2 separate regions of the Homo sapiens genome follow, and region 2 is linked to region 1. The links come from fine-mapping of genetic effects on gene expression. A gene starts in region 1. The other region holds a variant in brackets. All regions are shown on one strand. Distances are between the middles of the regions. Region 1 holds the start of BFSP2-AS1 (BFSP2 antisense RNA 1). Region 2 overlaps CDV3 (CDV3 homolog).

Evidence for each region. PIP is the estimated chance that this variant, and not a neighbour inherited with it, causes the effect.
Region 2: its variant is the best candidate, but not a certain one, in a credible set for the expression of BFSP2-AS1 in whole blood (INTERVAL, PIP 0.86).

The regions. Positions count from the first base shown.
Region 1 is chr3:133,489,456-133,492,371 of GRCh38, forward strand. BFSP2-AS1 (BFSP2 antisense RNA 1) reads right to left here and starts at 1,654. Exons shown (of 4, transcript NR_189064.1): 1 at 1,447-1,654. It also overlaps the pseudogene MAF1P1.
Region 2 is chr3:133,579,202-133,582,117 of GRCh38, forward strand. All of the region lies in intron 2 of CDV3 (CDV3 homolog), which reads left to right. Among named protein-coding and RNA genes, the nearest start is that of CDV3, 7.0 kb to the left of the region's middle. The variant G/A (reference allele first, on the strand shown) is at 1,395.

The sequences.
Region 1 (2,916 bases):
TAGCTATCATTTATCAAGCTCCTACAGTGTGCCAGCCTTCTCACAAACTTTTTTTCTGCTCCTCACATGAGCTTAATGCCACCACCAAAGACTTGAAAGATACAAGGTAGTGATTCCTACCAAATCCACAATTAACTCACTTGTTTGATCAGTGTACAAATCAAGTAGGTCATAGAAAATGACCACAGATCATCACGGACTAATCCAGTGGTGAGGTGAATCACAACCAGAATTGCAGAGACGGTATTTTTACTGGAGCAAATCCACACAGTCCCTGGCACCTGGGCCACTATTGACCTGGCAAATGCTTTATCCTGCCCACCCCCACCTTAATCCTCTTCTGCCCTGTTGTGGCAGGGACAGCAGTATACTTTTACTGTCCTGCCTCCGGGCTATGTCGGCTTGCCTGCACTTAGTCAGAATGCAATCTGGAGGGACCCAGAAGCCCAAGCTGATCCATTACATATCTTTATCATGCTAATTGGACCTGGAGAGCCCCAAAGAGCTAGCACCTAAATGCCTTAGTAAAGTACCTGCAATGCCAGAAAATGGGAGATAAAGCCTGACAATATTCAGGAGTCTGCCACATGCGTGAAGCCTCTAGAGTCCAGTGGTCTGGGCTTTGTTGGGATAGACCTTCTAACATGAGATTCAAGTTGTACTTTACACCAGAAAGAGCCATGAAGAAAAAGATATGAAGCTTAATTTTCAGAAGTAACACAAACCAGATTTGAGTATCTGTTGCTGTGAACCACTAACTCAAGTAACCCTTAAGGGTACAAGGTTTTTGGCTTTTGTTTTTGAATTTTTATTTTAACATAATTTCAGGCTTACAGAGCAGTTGAAAGAATAGTTGAAGAATTGCCATATACCCTTCACTCAGATTTCACAAATATTAACATTTTCATAGGCAGACAGAAGCAAATTATTTTTAAGTTGAAGTAGTTAAGTTTCTTTTATACTTATTTAGTTCTAGGAATTTTGACTGATAGACATTGACTGGTGGGGGAGGTGGAGGTTGCTGGCTGACCAAGGTGATCTGTGGTGGTTGGTGGCATGTTGGTGGCTAAAGCAGGCAATGTGCAGTGTGGTAAGGATGTGTCATAGTGACCACCTGGATGAGCCAGCAGGGCCAGGTATAATGAAACATTGCCATGGAGTTTCTTCCCCCAGATACAGTGTGGCCCAGGTGGATGCCACGGTGCCACCCTCTGGTGCTGAGGAGCCCACACTGTGCGGAGCCTGCCCTGCCTATGCACCGGTGCCGATGACCCAGCCAGGCCTGATTTAGCCCCACCAGGCAGGCAGCAATGGCCCCTCTCAAGCATGGAGCTCCCTCCCTGAGACAGGAAGCTATTGGAGAACTGGGCTTTGAAGCCATCAACTCACAGCTAACTGTAGAGAGCAAAGATACCCACATTATCAGCAGGATTGAGAGCTACTCACGTAAGATAGCAGGAGACGACAAACACTGTTCTGACAGGAGGGCGGCCCACATACTGAAGGCTCTCTCCCCATCCCAGACCTCAGGCCTCAGCCCCAGCAGCCTGAGCAAGAACCAAGGTGGCAAGGACAAGGGCCCCCCTCAGGGACAAGTGCAATTGCAAGACCCTCTTCCACTTGATTGTCATGCTCAGCGAGTCCTTTCAGGCCTGACTATGACCTCAGCACAGCCCGCAGCCATGGGTTCAGCCGGAAGCCCAGCCTCAGGTGGGTGGTGAATGCAGTCAACCGCAGTCTGTTCTCAGCTGCGTGGGGGGACATCAAGGTCCTAGAACACAGCTGTGGAACACAGTGGATGAGGAGATCCACCTGGCTTAATGAGACACCCACAGCTATAACCCAGACATGGACCCAGATGCCTTCAGAGAAGAAGATACCCTCTGGTCCTTCAACTACTTCTTCTACAACAAAGGGCTCAAGCAAATTGTTTTCTTCAGCCACCGCTCCATTAGCAGCTCCACCTGCACACCCTCAGAGGCAGGCAACGAGATGGACCTGGAACTGGGGGAAGAGGAGGAAGAGAAAGGAAGCAGAGGTGGAGGCAGTGAGGGTGGGGCCGAAGAGACCAGACCAAGGAGGACAGGTTCCCAGTGATTTGTATGTGATGAGGAGTAGCACAGGCCCCAGCTTCATCCAGCTTCAACCAATGCCTGGACCTGCCCACCTGAGAGGCCCTGAGGCCTCCCCAGCTGCAGGCCAGACCCTGGTGCTGTCAGAGTCTCAGCACTGCCCAAGGCCACACCTGCCTGGCCCTTTGGCTCCAGCCTGTAGGTGTCCACTCAACCCCATAGGCTTCTGCTGCCCACGCTGTGGCTGGACTAGACAGCACAGGACCTGCTGCAAAGAGTAACCACCTTGCCCAAACGAACTACCACAGGCAGGGACAGCTAGACCACAGAGTTTATTTTTGTATTTCTGCTGGGCCTGCACACTCCAGCCCAAAGGGCTTATAGCCAGAGGCCCCAGAGGTCATGAGCTCTAGTCTTGGGTCAGCTCTTGGCACCCACCTGTACCCCCACCTCACCCATTTGGCTGCATGCACTGAGTGTCACTTTGCTGCAGCTCATTGCTTTCCAATAAAAATGTTTGTGACTTAAAAAAAATTGAGACAAAAATTTAAAAATTTTATAACATGCTCATGAATGCTGGCAACCTCACCTCCACCAGCACCCCACCCCAGCTGCCACCACCGCCAGTACAAGTGCAACACCAGCAACCCCACGGCTGCCAGTGCCCCAGCCCCCATTTTCCCCCCTACCAATGCACCACCACCACCACTGGCATGAGCACATGCAGGAACACCGCCTCCCCATTTCTGCTGGAACCCCTCCCCAGCTAACACGTGTGCACCCCGCCATGCTGCTGCAGCTGCTGCCATACATCAGTAAGCACAGATCTCACTGACACCACCCT
Region 2 (2,916 bases), 90 kb after region 1:
AGTCTCCCTTTTGTAGCATCATTATTCTCCTCACCTTACCAGTAGTGCCTTACAGACTTACACATATTTAAGACCGTATATGTGGAATTGTGATGAATTTACAGCAGTATTGTAGTGTTTGTTTATAAAATTTAGCTGATGGGAAGCTATATATTATATTTGGGTCAAACACTGAATTTCAGCCTGTCTCCCATGGAAATAACCGTTTGGAACGTGTTTCTTGTTCTGCTATGACATTTGGAGAGTTGATACTTTCTGAAATATGTAAAGATGAAAAAGTAATAAAATATGTAAATCATTTCTACCCTGCTAACTGGCATTTAGGCAAGCCTCTAAGCATCTCTGGGCTTCAATTCCTTCAATTGTTGGATGAAGAGTGTTTTTGGTTTGTTCGTTCTTTTTTTTTTTTGATAGAGTTTTTGCTTTTGTTACCCAGGCTGGGGTGCAATGGCGCAATCTCCGCTCACTGCAACCTCCACCTCCCAAGTTCAAGCGATTCTCCTGCCTCAGCCTCCCAAGTAGCTGGGATTAGAGGCATGTGCCACCACGCCTAGCTAATTTTTGTATTTTTAGTAGAGACAGTGTTTGACCATGTTGGTCAGGGTGGTCTCGAACTCCTGACCTCCAGTGATCTGCCCGCCTCTGCCTCCCAAGATGCTGGGATTACAGGCATGAGCCACTGCGCCCGGCTGATAAAGAGTCTTGACTAGACAATTTCCACATGTTTAGTTTAGCTAGTATTTCAGAATCTTAACCCAAAATACTTATTTATTTTTATTATTATTATACTTTAAGTTCTAGGGTACATGTACACAACGTGCAGGTTTGTTACATAGGTATATATGTGCCATGGTGGTTTGCTGCACCCATCAACTTGTCATTTACATTAGGTATTTCTCCTAACGCTATCCCTCCCCCAGTCCCCCACCCCCCAACAGGCCCTGGTGTGTGATGTTCCCCTCCCTGTGTCCATTTGTTCTCATTGTTCAACTCCCACTTGTGAGTGAGAACATGCAGTGTTTGGTTTTCTGTCCTTGTGATATTTTGCTGAGAATGATGGTTTCCAGCTTTATCCATGTCCCTGCAAAGGACATGAGCTCATCCATTTTTATGGCTGCATAGTATTCCTTGGGGTATATGTGCAACGTTTTCTTTATCCAGTCTATTATTAATGTACATTTGGAAAAACCCAAAATATTTATTTAAAAAAATTTCTTTTGGCCGGGCACAGTGGCTCACGCCTGTAATCTCAGTACTCTGGGAGGCTGAGGCAGGTGGATTACTTGAGGTCAGGAGTTCGAGACCAGCCTGGCCAACATGGTGAAACCCCGTCTCTACTAAATACAAAAAATTAGCTGGGCATGATGGCGCATGCCTGTAATCCCAGTTACTTG[G/A]TGGGCTGAGATAGAAGAATTGCTTGAACCCGGGAGGCAGAGGTTGCAGTGAGCCAAGATCAGGCCATTGCACTCCAGTCTGGGCAACAGGAGTGAAACTCCATCTCAAAAAAAAAAAATAGAGACAGAGTCTCACTGTGTTGCTATATTGCTCAAGCTGGTTTTGAACTCCTGGCCTCAAGTGATCCTCCCACCTTGGCCTTCCAAAGTGCTGGGATTAGGGCATGAGCCACTGCACCTGGCCAAGAATCCAAAATACTAAATTGTCTCCTTGTGCCTTTTATTATTGATGTACAATCCCTCTAATTAAACAGATTATGCTTATTTTTTGGTAATAGTTTGTAAACTAGGTGTATTTTAAATTTGAGATTATTTTATTTTTTAATTTTTTTCCTAAGGGCAAGGAGATGTTAGACACTAGACAGTAAAAAAAAAACTTCCAGTTGAGATACTGTCACTATTCCATCAGACCAAATAGGAGTTTTTATTTAAAAGCTTTCTGTGAGGCTGGGCGTGGTGGCTCACTCCTGTAATCCCAGCACTTTGGGAGGCAGAGGTAGGAGGATCACTTGAGGCCAGGAGTTCAAGACCAGCCTGGGCAAGACCCTGTCTCTACAAAAAAATGTAAAAAAGTAAAATTAGCCAATTGTGGTGGTCTGCACCTTTAGTTCTAGCTTACTTGGGAGGCTGAGGTGGGAGTATCTCTTGAGCCCTGGAGTTGAAGATTGCAGTGAGCTAAGATTGGGCCTCTGTACTCCAGCCTGGGTGACAGAGCAAGACCCTGTCTCTAAAAATTAATTTTTAAAAATAAAAAATGATTTTTTATGTAGGTTATAAAAATAATATGCTTGTTTTTAGAAATTTTTTTGAGAAAAATGTAGAAGCATAAAGAAATATGTAAGAATTATCTGTAGTCTCTTCTATTTAGGGATAATCAGTAAATAGTGCTGATTATTATGGGGTTGTCACCTCCATTTTACATAAGAGGAAATTGAGGTATAAAGAAATGAAGTGCCATGTTCAAAGTTTCCTGGCTGGTAAGTGGCAGAGCCTGGATTTGAACCAGGAAGCCTGACTTTAGAATCTGCTCCTAATTGCTTGCTGCATGAAGAAGATAAAGTCATACATTCTAGCACCCAGAGCTACTCTATAAAACTTTTTAAAATTGTTGTAGATGTTTTTGTATTTATATTAGGTATATAGATGTTGTTTTAGTGAATTTTGGTTTATATGACATGAATACTACCTCCATGTCAGCATAGGGTTTACATTTTAAATGGCTGCATAGAATTCTCTTACATGTTAACGAAAAGGAAAACTGAGAGATGGCTTGGCTATATTTTTATTTTAAATTGCATTTTTTTCTTTCTCAGACCTCTTAGGGATGAATTGCCATATTCTCTATCCTTTTTCCTCTCAGATAAAGTTGTAAGTAAAATCTTGCTGTAAATGTAGACGAGATAAATCTGTTCTTCTTTCCACTCTTCCTCATTGTCACTCTAGCCTCCAAATTCTGCAGTCA